4 linked regions of the Homo sapiens genome follow. The protein of the gene in region 1 purifies or fractionates together with the protein of each later gene. This does not show direct contact. Each region holds a gene or a part of one and is shown on either strand. Other genes may lie near its edges.

Region 1 (3,092 bases):
TCTTCTGTCTCAGCCTCCCGAGTAGCTGGGACTACAAGTGTGGGCCACCATGCCCAGCTAGTTTTGTATTTTTAGTAGAGATGGGATTTCACCATCTTGGCTAGGATGGTCTTGATCTCTTGACCTTGTGATTCGCCTGCCTCTGCCTCCCAGAGTGCTGAGATTACAGGCGTGAGCCACAGTGCCCAATTTCCATGGGTTTTCAAGAAAAACTTAACTTACTTAAACTTCAGATCACTTCCTTAAAGGAACATACTGAGCATAGCTTGGCTGGTTAGAAATTAGGAAGACTAGCTTGGGCTACATGGTAAGACCCTGCCTCTACAAAAAATAAGAAAAAAGTTAGTGGCATGTGCCTGTAGTTCCATCTACTTGGGAGGCTGAGGTGAGAGGATCGCTTGAGCCCAGGAGGTTGAAGCTGCAGTGAGCCACGATTGCACCACTGTACTCCAGCCTGGGTGACACAGAGTGAGACCCTGTCTCCAAACAAAATTAGGAAGGGTTTCAGAGAGGAAATAAACACAACAATGTCAGTTACTTCATTCACACACTTAGCATATGCAATTTTAATCAACCAAAAGAAAATCCCAAATGTACAAGTGAAAAAAATCCAAACTGTTGACACAGGCCTAACTAATATCAGCTACTTTTATGTACAGCTGTATAGTTCAAAAAAGCTATCCTATATGTATATACAAAAGTTGTTTATACACAGGTCTGTACATAAGGGTCTATACATTTATTTCCTCAGAACCCTTAGGTGCCACCTCTTGGTGAGGACACCAACACTTCATTCACATATCTTACAAAAAAGAAAGACCATTTCCAGGATTGACAACATTGTGCATCCTGTATTCAGACAATGTACACTCCACTCGACTGGTTAAGATCCTTCCATCATAATGCGGACCACACCAGATGCATGGGTTCCACCAAACAGCTTCACACAGAGTGCTCCAAAGTAAAAGCCCATAAACCAACCCGAGATGAAGCAGGGTCCTGCCCAGTGTGCCACCACAGGTCCGGGCTTAGTTGAGTCTGCCTGCCCTGCTCACTGTCGGTATTCCAATTCATCTACACTGATAACTTTGGCGGGCATGGAGGGCAGGGGTTGCTGTAGCACATCTGAGCCAAACCATTTGGCAAGGCCCACAGGGGAGCTGCTCCTCTGGCTGGGGCGATGCTCCAGCTGGGAGTGCATGTGGGGCAGGCCTGACCGGCTGGGCACGTTCTGAGGGGTTGTCTGAACGCTGACAGCTGCTGCATGGGAACCAGAGCCTGGAGGATGCAGAACTGTGGAGATAAGAAGGGTTATCATTCACAGCATGAGAAGGAAAGTTTATTAGACCCTGCTTCATTCAAACCCTATCCAAAGAAAAGTCTTTACTAGAGGATTTTTTCTAGGGCTTCTTTAGAAACTCCTTTGCAAAATACCAACAATGCCAGAAAACAGTACCATGGAAAGCTGAGCTATTCAGAAGCTACCAGTATTGAAAACCCACCCTGGATGACATGACCGCTACTTCTCATGGCTAAGTAACCACATCACAGAAGCAGCAACATGAACTGGTGAGGGGGTATATACCCTGGGCAGGCCGGATGCTGAACCTCTGTTGGATTCTCAGCCCTCTCTCCTAACAGGCAAAGGAAAAAGCCAGAAAACACTTGGCTTTTCCCACTGACTTTGCAGGAACAGTAATCCCAAATTGCATAGAGGTCAATTTACTTCATCTTATTATCTGGTTACACTTTGTCCCAAACTTAGAACAAGTTAAAGAATGAAAGTGTTAATTCATCTCCACTGGAAACTAGTCCTCAAAGCTTCAAGACTCCCTAAGTCCGTCCCAAACTCACCTGTCACATTCCTGAACCTACCTGAGCGCTGTAGCTGCTGTTGCACCATTGCCAGATGCAGAGGTGTTCCAGGACGAGGGTTTAAGAGAGGGTGACTAGCAGCAGGTAAAGGGTAAAAGGGCTGACCCAGGATGGGGCCAGATATTCCCTGTAAATGACTCAAGTCCATCCCAGGAGGAAGCACACCTGTTGAGCAGAAAAAGCAAGCAGCTGAGTAGTCTTAATGTTACCTGGAAGTTTTCCAGCTTCACTGTACAGTTTTGCTGATCTGGAAGTTTGTTAAGAATGAAGGGCTCTGCGCAGTGGCTCACGCCTGTAATCCCCAGCACTTTGGGAGGCCAAAGCAGGCGGACCACGAGGTCAGGAGTTCGAGACCAGTATGGCCAACATGGTGAAACCCTGTCTCTACTAAAAATACAAAAATTAGCCAGGTGTAGTGGCAGGCGCCTGTAATCCCAGCTACTCGGAAGGCTGAGGCAGGGACCTAGAACTCGGGAGAGGCAGAGGTTGCAGTGAGCAGAGATCGCGCCACTGCACTCTAGCCTGGGCGACAGAGCGAGACTCAAAAAAGAATGAAGAATTCTCTGGCTCACGCCTGTAATCCTGACACTTTGGGAGGCCGATGTGGGTGGACTGCCTAAACTTAGGAGTTTGAGACCAGCCTGGGCAACACGGTGAAATCCTGTCTCTACTAAAATACAAAATAAATTATCCGGGTGTGGCGGCGTGCACCTGTAGTCCCAGCTACTCGGGAGGCTGAGGCAGGAGAATTGCTTGAACTCAGGAGGCAGAGGTTGCAGTGAGCTGAGATTGCGCCACTGCACTCCAGCCAGGCAGACAGAGTGAGACTTCTGTCTCTACAAAAAGGAAAAAAAAAAAAAAAAAAAAAAAGAATCTTCAAGCTAGGTTCCTAATCTTTTAAAGGACTAGGGGATTGACTGGATTGGGCCCACTGCCTGCCAGTTAGATGGGAGAATCTAGTAACATCTTTCTAGGGATGGAAATCTCCCACATTATAGCACTTCATCAGTGCCAACAATTGTCCCCTAGGCCCACAAACTGACGACACCCAAGTCAGGCTGGAAACTCACCAGTTTGGAGCAAACTTGGAAGATGCTGTGGATGTACTCCCTGGGCCAGCATCCTCTGTACCAACCCTGGGTGAAGCTGGTGAGCAGGCCTAACCATAGGGACATGGGGGACAAGGGGAACTTGGTGGACAGGGCGGAGAAAAGGTG
Region 2 (3,604 bases), 6.5 Mb from region 1:
CAGGAAGGGAAGCAACCTCTCTGGGCCTCCGTAGACTAATAATAATACTAGTAATCCTAACGATACTAGCTAAGGCTCATGTAAATTCATTAGCAAGTGCCATATGTGTTAACACATTTAATGCTTGTCAACCTCATGAGGCCAGCTCTCTTATTACTCCCAGCTTACAGATGAGAAAACTGAGGCCCAGAGTGGTTAACTGCCTTGCATAAGGCCACACAGCTGGTAAGCGGTGGAGCTGGGATTTGAATCCAAGCAGTCCGGCTCCAGGTTCCCTGCAATATTCCCAAGGGAATGGGTGGCGGAATTCCTCATTCTGCCCCTATCAGGACCCCCTCAGCTCCATGCCAATCCTCACAGCCACCATCTGGTTATCATCTACCTCATGCCAAGCATTTCACAGTCCTCGTTAATGGGCACAAGCACACTGTGACCCTTTTACAGACAGGCAAACTGAGGCTGAGGGATGTGATGAGGCTGATCAAAAGTCACGTGGCCCACAACGAGCACAGCTGGGATTCAAACCCAGGCCTATCCCTCCCAGTCTCACCTTGGCGTCGCTGCGTTCTCTCACTCTACTGGCTACAGGTGTCACTGCTCAGGGGATTGTAAGCCAGCTCCAGCACAAAAATCATCATCAAGACAATCATCCCTCATTTCCCATCTCGCCTCACAGGTATAAAGCACCTTCTTATGCAGTAATATCTCTGAGCTTCCCAGCAGCTCGCCAGAGAAGACAAATTATTCCCATTTTCCAGATAAGGAAACTGAGACTCAGTTGGTGAACTGCCTGTCTCTGGTTATAAACTCAAACCAGGTCTCCTTACCCAGAGCCTCTGCTCTGCGACCACTTGTCCCACACAAATCATGAGCCATGATTCTTACCCATGCCCTCCAGGCAGACCCTCTACTCCTGCAAGGACCCGTCCTACCCCATCAGAAACATAATTGTGGCAGGTTCTATTATTGCTCAGCAAATGTTTCTTCAGCCTCCATGAGAGGAGTAGACTTCAACTCATTGATGTCAGGCTTGCCACGTGACTTGCTTCAGCCTATAGCATGAGAGCAGAAGTGACAGCTTCTCAGTTCAGAACGGAGGCTTCTGTTGTCCACCACAGAAGAACACGCCCTGGCTGGCTGCCACCCTTCAGCCTGTGAATCTGGATGAAGATTCACGAGCCAGACCTGAACCCAATCCAAAGCCTAGGGCCAGCCTTGCTGGTGAAGCCTAGCTAAGGTCAGCCAAGCTACCTGCTGACTCGTGAGCATGAAACAAATGTTTGCTGTTAAAGGCCACTGCGATGTAGGAGATGTTTGTTACACAGTATGATCACAGAAAAGCTTGACTAATACAGGGACCACGTATGTCCAGAAAGACTCGTGTGTACATGGGCAAATATCTTCCGAGACAGAGTCTCCAGCAGTTTGTATTAAAACCCAAGGGCCAGGCTGGGTGTGGTGGCTCACATCTGCAATCCTACCACTTTGGGAGGCTGAGGCAGCAGGATCGCTTGAGGAGTTTGAAACTAGCCTGGGTAATGTGGCAAAATCTCGTCTCTACAAAAATTAGCCAGGCGTGGTGGTGCATGCCTGTAATCCCAGCTACTTGGGAGGCTGAGGTGGGAGGACCACCTGAGCCCAGGAGGTTGAGACTGCAGTGAACTGAGATCGCACCACTGCATTCCAGCCTGGATGAAAGAGCAAGACCCTGTCTCAAAACAAAAACAACAACAACAAAAAGAACCCCAAGGGCAACAAAATGTTGTCACTTATAAGAACTCTCACCTTCCCTCAGGCCAGAGGCCATGTCCTATGGCCAAAGACAAGAGACAGCCAAACACTGTTCCTTCTCTCTGAAATATACAAAGAGGCTGTCTCTCGCACAGCTGTGGTAAGAGTGTGAAAGGTATAGCCACTCTGCTGGGAAATTGGGCAGGTCATTTCAACGTTCTAAACACCCTTCCTCCCTAAAGTTCCACATCCTGGAAATCTGTCCTCCAGCCTACTACAACAAATGTGCAAAGACATGTCAACAGGGATGTTAACTGCGGCACTCGGTCATAGCAAAAAAAAAAAAAAAAAAAAAAGAACCTGAAAAACAACTCAATGTCCATCAACAGGGGATCGGTTAAATAAGCTCATAGCACCTCATGCACTGGAAATTATTCAGTTTTTTCTTTTTTTTTTTTTTTTTTGAGACGGAGTCTTGCCCTGTCACCCAGGCTAAAGTGCAGTGGCGCGATCTCAGCTCACTGCAACACTCGCCTCCCTGGGTTCAAGCAATTCTCCTGCCTCAGCCTCCCGAGTAGCTGGGATTACAGGCGCGTGCCACCATGCCTGGCTAATTTTTGTATTTTTAGTAGAGATGGGGTTTCACCATGTTGACCAGGCTGGTCTTGAACCCCTGACCTCAAGTGATCCGCCCGGCCGCCTAAAGTGCTGGGATTACAGGCCCGAGCCACCACAGCTGGCCTTATTCAGCTTTTAAAAATAATGAGGTAAATCAACACATTCTGAAATGGGAAAGTACCTAAATCTATTTTTAATTCACGTGTGAAATTATTTGTTTTATTTTATTTATTTATTTATTTATTTATTTATTTATTTATTTGAGACGGAGTCTCACTCTGTCGCCAGGCTGCAGTGCAGTGGTATGATCTCGATTCACTGCAATCTCCCTCCCAGGTACAAGTGATCCTCCCGCCTCAGCCCCACGAGTAGCTGGGACCACAGGCGCCACCACACCTGGCTAATTTTTGTATTTTTAGTAGAGACGGGGTTTCACCATGTTGGCCAGGCTGGTTTCGAACTCCTGACCTCAAATGATCCACCTCCCTCGGGGTCCCAAAGTGCTGGGATTACAGGCGTGAGCCACCGCGCCCGGCCGTATTTCATATTCTTAATGGAGACATGGCTATAGAACATTTCAAAGGTCACTTAACTGAGCAATTAACAAATGTAGCTGTGATAGCTTCTGCCCAGAAGTCAAGTCCATAATTATTTGCTTACTTGTCTCACCTTGCCCCCTTCCTTCTTCTCGTACAGTTGACCAGAGGATTCCTAAGGGCAGGTGATCTTTTGAATTTTTCACAAATAGAGTGCCTTGCCCACATAAGATGCTCAATAAAATATTCATTGCATTGAAGGAAAAAATATATATATGTGTGTGTGTGTGTATGTGCCTCGATTGTTTGTTAGCTTCCTTTTATTTTTACTTTTTGAGACAGAGTCTCACTCTGTTGCCCAGGCTGGAGTGCAGTGGCACCATCTAGCTCACTGCAAACTCCACCTCCCAGGTTCAAGTGATTCTCATGCCTCAGCCTCCTGAATAGCTGGGATTACAGGCAACTGCCATCACGCCTAGCTAATTTTTTTTAATTTTATTTTTATTTTTTTTTAGTAGAGATGGGGTTTCACCATGTTGGCCATGCTGGTCTCAAACTCCTGCCCTCAAGTGATCCGCCCACCTCTGACTCCCAAAGTGCTGAGATTACAGGTTTGAGTCACTGTGCTTGACCAGCTTCCTTTTATTTTTAATTTTAATTTTTTAAATTTTTATGTATTTATGTATTTATTTATTTGAGACAAGGACTCACTCTGTCTC
Region 3 (3,604 bases), on another chromosome or scaffold:
AGAATGTAACTGTCCAACATGGCGAAATCCTGTCCCTACTAAAAACAGAAAAATTAGCCAGGTGTGGTGGCGGGCACCTTGGGTGGCTGAGGCAGAAGAATCGCTTGAACCCGGGAGGCGGAGGTTGCAGCGAGCTGAGATCGGGCCACTGCACTCCAGCCTGGGTGACAAAGCAAGACTCAGTCTCAAAGAAAAAAAAAGTAACTGTTATTCTAGCCAGGCGCGGTGGCTCATGCCTGTAATTCCAGTACTTTAGGAGGCCGAGGTTGGTGGATCACTGGAGTTCAGGAGTTCGAGACCAGCTAGGCAACATGGTGAATCTCTGTCTCTACTAAAAATATAAAAAATTAGTTGGGCGTGGTGGCGTGCGCCTGTGGTCCGGGCTACTCAGAAGGCTGAGGCTGAGACAGGAAAATTGCATTAATCTGGGAGGCGGGGGTTGCAGTGAGCCAAGAACACGCCACTGCACTCCAGCCTGGGCGACAGAGCGAGACTCAGTCTCAAAAAAAGAAAAAAGAATGTAACTGTCATTCTTAGCTCCCAGGCTGTGGGCCACACACAGGCCTTGATTTGCCAACCCCTGGTGTAGGGCAACATGTGCTGAGCAGAGTTTAGGTATTAGAATTTGGAAACAGATTGAAAAGTCCATCTCATCTGTGTCTCTTTAGAGGAAGAAATAGTTCTATAGGCCTTCTGTGAACGGATTTTTAAAAAAACCTGACTGGCCACCCCTGGCCCACAGCAGTGTGTGTGCATAAGGCTGTGTGGCCAGGCCCAGGTCCCTTTCCAACCTCTTCCTTACCTTGCACCACCAACAGCTCCTGGCACGTCCCTTAAATCATCGGAAGCTGCCTGATGGAGAAAGAAACACAGTCAGTCCCCACCTACTGCAGCCAGCCCCAGCCATTTACTGGTTGCCAGACCCTGAGCTGGGCATTCTGCCCTCCATCACCGCCCTGAGGAGGCTCCCCATCCCCACGCTGTACCCTGGAGCCCACTCTGGGACCCTGGGGCCCACTCTGGGACCCAAGGGCAGAGACCCACTTGGTTATCCCACCAGCACACAGCAGGGCTGGGATTCCCACTCGCAACCTAGGGCCAGAGCCTCTCGCCACTCTCCAGGGATCCAGCATCTGACTGCTCCTTGTGCCACGCAAGGGTCCAGGTAGACAGTCTACAAATTTGGTCCGACCCTAACTGGCCAGCAGTGGACACAGCCCTGGCAAGTCCCTCCCAATGGTCTCTGTGCACTGGGGAATACCTAGGGCTTGGGAATCTCTTGCTGTGTGACCCTGGAAAGGGTGATGGCAGAATACTGTGGAGTACTGAGGACAGACAAGGACTCTGCAAACTGTCCCAGTGTCACAAGGCCATAACCTTGTGCTGCTGCAGAGATGGGGCTGGAGGGAGGCCCAGGCACCAAGCACATTTGCGAAGCACACAGCAAGCACCCTTGCTTTCCTCCTGTCTTTCCTCAGGACAAAGGAAGGGGCCCCAGAACTCTCAGTAACAACCACAGAGGAGGCGCCAGAGTGAGACTGTTTCCCAGACCACCAGGGTGACATGCGGAAAGGCGCCGAGTGGCTCCAGGGGTGCCAGGAAACAGAGAAGAAACCCAAACAAGCCCCTGCACGAGGGTCTTTTGAAATGCCTTCCCCAGGGAAGCCTGCTCACAGGGTCAAGGGCCACCCTCTCCACCTGCCCCCCTCGTGCCCTGGGCCCAGTGACAGAGAACTGCCTGTTCCCATCAACCAAGGTGGGTGGGGAAGGGAAGGAGGGAGGCTGAAAATAAACCCTTAACCACTGTGTTTGTCAGGAAGACACTCAACCAGAGACAGGTCCAAGAGAAAGACCGTGGCACAAAGCAGAGGACGCCAAACCCTGGAAGCATCTGCCTCAGCTCCAGCTAGGCCACTTCCTACTGCACACAACCCCAAGCAGAAGAGTCCACCCACAGATGTATGGTCCCCAGAAGCGGGAAGAGGGCATTACCTGTCCCGCAGGGATGGACTCCAAGGAATCAGAACATCCCTGGGCAATGGGCTGGTGCTCGGGAGTCAGACTGTCAGTGGACGAGAGGCTGCTGGCCAGGGCCTCCTCCTGAACGAACATGATTCCTGGAGAGACCAGGGCGGGTGGGCAGGCAGGCAGGGTGGGTGGGGCGGGGAGAGCGGCTGTTCAACAAGTGGGGCTGGGCCCCTCAGGCTACTGGCATGGCGGGGGTTAGCCAGATCCCAAAACCCAGCCACATGGATTATAGAAGAAAATGTTAAAACTGAAATCTCAAAATAACTCAAGAAAGAACAAATGACTGCTTATCTAATCTCAGGGCAGGGAGAAGCATTCTGAGAATAAATGCAATGGAAAAAAACTGAGATGTGACTACATAAAAATTAAACTTCCACAGACACATTTTTTAAAAACCAGGATAGATTAAAACCAGATGAAATGAGAAAAGTGTTTGCAATATTTGACAAGGATTTATATCGCTAGTCTGTAAAAAGTTCTTACAGATTACAAAAATGAGGGAAGGTTGGAAACCTCATTAACAGACTGCAAAGGACGTGAACAGACATTCCGCAGAAGAACGGCCAGCGGATAGAACATGAAAAGAATGCTCGCTCTCAGAAGTACACAAAGAAAGGCAAGCTGAAACAAGAGACAAGTGTTGCCTCTCAACTTCTGCCAAAGTCAGACTGACTGTGTGGCCTGGCCCTGACCTCGCTGGGCAGAGGCCGGCACAGGCATGCAAGCTGGCCCACCCATCCAGAGAAGAGTTTGGAGGTACATCCATCAAGAGCCTGAAATGTGTTCACTCCTGGAGCATTTTCCCAGACGGTGACTAGACATGACCCCGTCCCCTGATTTGTCATCTCTGCAGGACTCATAGATACACAGGGCACGGGACAATTCACCAGGGGGCCAGCCCTTGCAGGCCTTGGTATCCAGCAGGGCTGCTGAGTCCAGCCTGAGCCCACATCCACAGTCCCACTTACCACAGGACGTGCCCACTGACCTGCCCTGGGGCCACCTCCCACGGACAGCAGCACTCTGACCCACTGCGTCCCGTAAATGCACAGTGTTCCTAAACCCCGCTGAAGCTGTTTTATGAACGTAGCCTATCTGGACCTGTTACTCCACCTCAGATCACCTCTAGACCACTTGAAGGTAAAGCCTTTGTGAACATGTTCCTGACTGCCGCCAGCAGGGTGAACACTGGGCATCGGCCGCCAGTCTCACTGAGGCCTACAGGAGCCCTAGGCCTACCTCCACAGCCCAGCATCGCCACAGCCCAGTGAAATGACCCCGAGTCCTCTGAGCCCCACAGGTCGAGACCCCCGACCAGCTCAGCTGCTCCCCGGGACAGGACAACTCACACAGCCTGGGTCCTCTGCCCACAAGCGAGGCAGGCAGGTGGGCCCAAGCTCAAACGCCCCCACGAAGCGAAGCAGCAGGGGGTAGGCAGGCAGGAAGGATGGCAAGCACACAGCCATGCATGAAGCACCCTGATGGGCCACGCTGGGCACCTGCCCAGGCCGCTGCTCTCCTGCAATCCACCCTCTGCCTGCTAACGTTCAACTCCTATTCACCTTCGAGATTCACC
Region 4 (4,352 bases), on another chromosome or scaffold:
CTTAACTCAAACTTTTCCTTCTTTTTTTTCCCTCCCTCTTTTTCCTTCCTTCCTCTCTCTCTTTTTCTCTCTCTCTCTTTCTTTTCTTCTCTGTTGCCCAAGCTGGAATGCAGTGGTGCCATCATGGCTCACTGTAGCCTCAACTTCCCAGGCTCAAGCGATCCTCCCATCTCAGCCTCCTGAGTAGCTGAGTCTACAGGCATGCACCACCACACCTGGATAATTATTTTTTTTTTTGTAGAAGTGGGGGTCTCGCTGTGTTGCCCAGGCTGTCCTTGAACTCCTGGCCTCAAGGGATCCTCCCAGCTCACCCTCCCAAAATGCTGGGAATACAGGCATGAGCCACCGCAATGGCCCATTTCTTTATGTAGTCTTCCAGCTGTTCAGCCAACACTTAACTCTGAACCAACTGCCAGTCTTTCAATCTACTAGTGACCTGAAAGCCTTTCCTGGCTGACCCAACATATACTTCCCATGTATTGATTTATGTCTTTGCCTGTAACTACTGTCTCCCTAAGATGCATAAAACCAAGCTGTAACCCAACTACTTTGGGCTCACGTTCTCAGGACCCCCTGAGGCTGTGTCACCAGCCATGGTCACTCAAATAGGAGGCCCAGAATAAAACTCTTTATAGACTTTGACTCTTTTTGGTCAACATAACCTAACCCTAAACATAATCCTCCTGGGGAAGGTAGGATCACAGGTATCTCTTCCTCGTTCAGTTTGTGTGTGTATGTCCTTATTTCTCTACGGTTTTTAGGCATTCGCTGTGTGATCTAGAAAAGCTATGGAGTCTCGCTTTGTCGCCAGGATGGAGTGCAGTGGCGTGATCTCGGCTCACTGCAACCTCCACCTCCCAGGTTCAAGTGATTCTCCTGCCTTAGCCTCCCGAGTAGCTGGGATTACAGGCACGCGCCACCACGCCCAGCTAATTTTTGTATTTTTAGTAGAGACAGGGTTTCATCATGTTGGCCAGGATGATCTCTATCTCTTGACCTCGCGATCTGCCCGCCTCGGCCTCCCAAAGTGCTGGGATTACAGGCTTGAGCCACTGCGCCCAGCTACAAATTCTATTTTCTTTTTGTTCCTTGGAAAGCATCGCTGGGCATTTATCCTGTCCCAGTATTTGAGTGAAACTTCTCAGCATTTCAGAGCAGTGACCATGATACACCCTTTCCTTTCCTTCTCCTTATGGGAAACTCCGTTCTAACCCAGAGGACTTGGGCTCCAGGACCCAGTAACGGAGCCCTGGATTTGACCCTAAAAGGGAGTAAAGACAAAGGTGAAGTTCAGTCCGGGGTTCAGGGCTGCCAAAGCTCATAGCCTGGAGCTTCTTAACCTTTAGGCAGGGTAGAGACATTTAAGACGGCCCCAAAACTGGGGGAGCGCGTAGGCTCCTGGGAAATAGAGTCCGTTACTTGTCCTGGGACCCGCGGTGGGTGTCCCGGGAGGCGGACTTCCGGTGCACTCCTGCGCTTGTGCACCTCTCCCTGCGTGCGTGTTCGCACATGCGCGCCACCTCCGCACTGCCCTCGCTTCCTGTGCCTCTTCAGGTCATCGCTTGCTCTCGTTCCCAGGCTTTGGCTTCTAGTGGACGAGAATCACCGAGTCTGCGGGGCTGGATGCTGACCGCCCGGACCAGCACCTAGGCGGGCGGGAGCTGTGCGGCCCAGGGTTCGCGCGGGCCGGGTAGAGGCTCGAGCTGGGACCCCCGAGCGTGAACCCCGGAGCCGGCGGCGCTGGGGCCAGAGGGGCCGGGAGCCCCAGGGAGGCGGATCTGGGCCCCGAGAAGGACACCCGCCTGGATTTGCCCCGTAGGCCCGGCCCGGGCCCCTCGGGAGCAGAACAGCCTTGGTGAGGTGGACAGGAGGGGACCTCGCGAGCAGACGCGCGCGCCAGCGACAGCAGCCCGCCCCGGCCTCTCGGGAGCCGTGGGGCAGAGGCTGCGGAGCCCCAGGAGGGTAAGTCTTGGGTTTTTGGGCCCGGAGCGAGAAGGGCCTGGGTGAAGTCACCTTGTGTTGGGGACCTTTGAGTGTGGGGCAGAGGGAGGGTCCCGATTGCTTGCCGGAGAGACATGTGTTGGGTTTGAGGGCAGGGTCCGGCTGCACCGAACAGGTGCTGCATGGGAAGATCTGGGAGGACGAGGCTTACGGAGGCGTGGAGGGTGTCACCACCCTCAGCTGCGGACGTCGTCTCCACTCCCCGCTAACCCCTAACAGTCCTTCCTCCTCCTCTCCGTGCTCCAGATTTCGACCGCCTCTAAACGTCCGTCAGCACTTCTATTCTCTCACTTAAGTGTCTGCTGATCCCCCCCCTTAGACCTGCCCTGGGAGAATCGTAGTAATGCAGGAACAGTCTGCAGGGATTCTCTGCTGCTGCCTCAGTTGCTAGGGGAAGAGACTGGGCCTTAGGTGGGTGACTTGACCAGGTCACCGGCTTTGTGGGTAGAGCTGCTCATAGTAGAACCCAGGAGACTTATCTCCCAGGCCAGTGTTCTTTCTCCCGTATCCTAGTTTTCTTAATAGAAGATTATTAGGTGCAGCAATAACCAAGTTCAGTTAGATAATTTAGAAACAAAACCATATTTTATACACATTCATTTCATTTCTGAGAGCTCACATACTCAATTCCTATGGCTTATTTTATTTTAAGCAGTTTAAAGAGACAATAAGAAAATGCGGGCGGGATGCAGTGGCTCACACCTGTAATCCGAGCATTTTGCGGGGCTAGGGCAAGAGTATCCCTTGAGACCAGGAGTTAGAGACCAGCCTAGACAACATGGGGACACCCTGACTACAAAAAATACAAAAGTCGCCAGGCATGCTGGGATGCATCTGTGGTCCCAGCTACTCAGGAGGCTGAAGTGGGAGGATGGATGGAGCCCAGGAGGTCGAGGCTGCAGAGAGCCGTGAATGCACCACTGCACTCCAGCCTGGGTGGCAGATTGAGACCCTGTCTCAACCAACAAACCACAAAAAACATGAGCCGTATAATGGGAATTTTTTTTCTTTTTGCGCCTTGTATTTGATGATGATGGCAGACTATTTGTAAAAGGAGTCATGTTACCCATGAGAGTCTAACTCATCTAATTACTACCTGATTATCTTAGAGTTACAGGCGCATGCTTCCCCTATCACTCTTTTTTTTTTTTTTTTTTTTTTTGAGACAGTGTCTCTCACCCAGTCTGGAATGCAACAGCGTGGTCTCGGCTCACTGCAACTTCCACCTCCCAGGTTCAAAGGATTCTCGTGCCTCAGCCTCCTGAGTAGCTGGGACTACAGGCATGTGACTCTATGCCTGGCTAATTTTTTTTGTTATTTTTAAGTAGAGACGGGGTTTTGCCATGTTGGCCCAGGCAGGCGGATCACTTGAGGCCAGAATTTGAGACCAGCCTGGCCAACATGGTGAAACCCTGTATCACTCTTTTAGACCCTTCTGAGTGTTTGCAGGTTGAGTGTTCACAGGGTGTTAGCCTATTGAGCTTTCTTTTGCGGTTCTTATGCAGGTGATTTCTGCCTTTGCAGGCCGGAGCCCTCATGACTTCAGTGACCTGCTTCTGCCCCTCTAGGTCTATCAGCCACAGTCTCTGCATGTTTCCAAGAGCAGCAGAAAATGAACACATTGCAGGTGAGTTTTCCTGCTTGTGTATATGTTCCTCAACTTTATTTTATGATGCATTTTAAGAGGTTTGTAAGGATTCATACTTTTTTTTTTCTTTTTTTTGAGATGGAGTCTTGCTCTGTTGCCCAGGCTGCAGTGCAGTGGCATGATCTCGCTTCACTGCAACCTCCACCTCCTGGGTTCAAGTGATTCTCCTGCCTCAGCCTCCTGAGTAGCAGGGATTACAGGCGTGGGCCACCATGCCCAGCTAATTTTTTGTATTTTTAGAAGAGATGGGGTTTCACTATGTTGGCCAGGTTGGTCTCAAACTCCTGACCTCAGGTGATCCTCCCGCCTCAGCCTCCCAAAGTGCTGGGATTACAGGCATGAGCCACCGAGCCCAGCCAGGATTCATACTTTAAAATGGGAATGTGGAAATAGACATTATCCTGTAAAATATAGTTAGTGTGGCAGATCAGCACCAAAAATGATTTGTGAAGCTTGTATGTATGGGTAGTATATTTTAAGGCTGTTGAAATTGAGCCGCACCTAGGACTGATACTCTTGGCAGTCATCACAAAAGGAAAATGCCATCTGTATTAGTCCATTCTCACACTGCTATAGAGAAATAACCAAGACTGGGTAATTTATAAAGAAAAGAGGTTTAATTGGCTCACGTCTGCAGGCTCTATCATAGGAAGCGTGGCTGAGGAGTCCTCAGGAAACTTACAGTCAAGTGAAAGGTGAAGGG

The links. The genes of interacting proteins can lie anywhere in the genome.
Region 2: the proteins of EIF4ENIF1 (region 1) and KIAA1671 purify together in Homo sapiens (affinity purification with mass spectrometry, with the first as the bait; one large-scale study listed by BioGRID). This does not show direct contact.
Region 3: the proteins of EIF4ENIF1 (region 1) and NISCH purify together in Homo sapiens (affinity purification with mass spectrometry, with the first as the bait; one large-scale study listed by BioGRID). This does not show direct contact.
Region 4: the proteins of EIF4ENIF1 (region 1) and POM121C purify together in Homo sapiens (affinity purification with mass spectrometry, with the first as the bait; one large-scale study listed by BioGRID). This does not show direct contact.

Annotation. Positions count from the first base shown.
Region 1 is NC_000022.11:31,438,829-31,441,920, forward strand, and holds the end of EIF4ENIF1 (eukaryotic translation initiation factor 4E transporter), read right to left. Parts: coding exon 2,946-3,092; intron 2,041-2,945; coding exon 1,876-2,040; intron 1,294-1,875; coding exon 1,052-1,293; 3' UTR 539-1,051; downstream 1-538. UniProt on the Homo sapiens protein: EIF4E-binding protein that regulates translation and stability of mRNAs in processing bodies (P-bodies). Plays a key role in P-bodies to coordinate the storage of translationally inactive mRNAs in the cytoplasm and prevent their degradation.
Region 2 is NC_000022.11:24,959,138-24,962,741, reverse strand, and holds part of KIAA1671 (uncharacterized protein KIAA1671), read right to left. Parts: intron 1-3,604.
Region 3 is NC_000003.12:52,483,026-52,486,629, reverse strand, and holds part of NISCH (nischarin), read right to left. Parts: intron 2,118-3,604; coding exon 1,993-2,117; intron 853-1,992; coding exon 803-852; intron 1-802. UniProt on the Homo sapiens protein: Acts either as the functional imidazoline-1 receptor (I1R) candidate or as a membrane-associated mediator of the I1R signaling.
Region 4 is NC_000007.14:75,483,474-75,487,825, reverse strand, and holds the start of POM121C (nuclear envelope pore membrane protein POM 121C), read left to right. Parts: upstream 1-1,526; 5' UTR 1,527-1,962; intron 1,963-3,506; exon of another isoform or gene 3,507-3,628; intron 3,629-4,352. UniProt on the Homo sapiens protein: Essential component of the nuclear pore complex (NPC). The repeat-containing domain may be involved in anchoring components of the pore complex to the pore membrane. When overexpressed in cells induces the formation of cytoplasmic annulate lamellae (AL).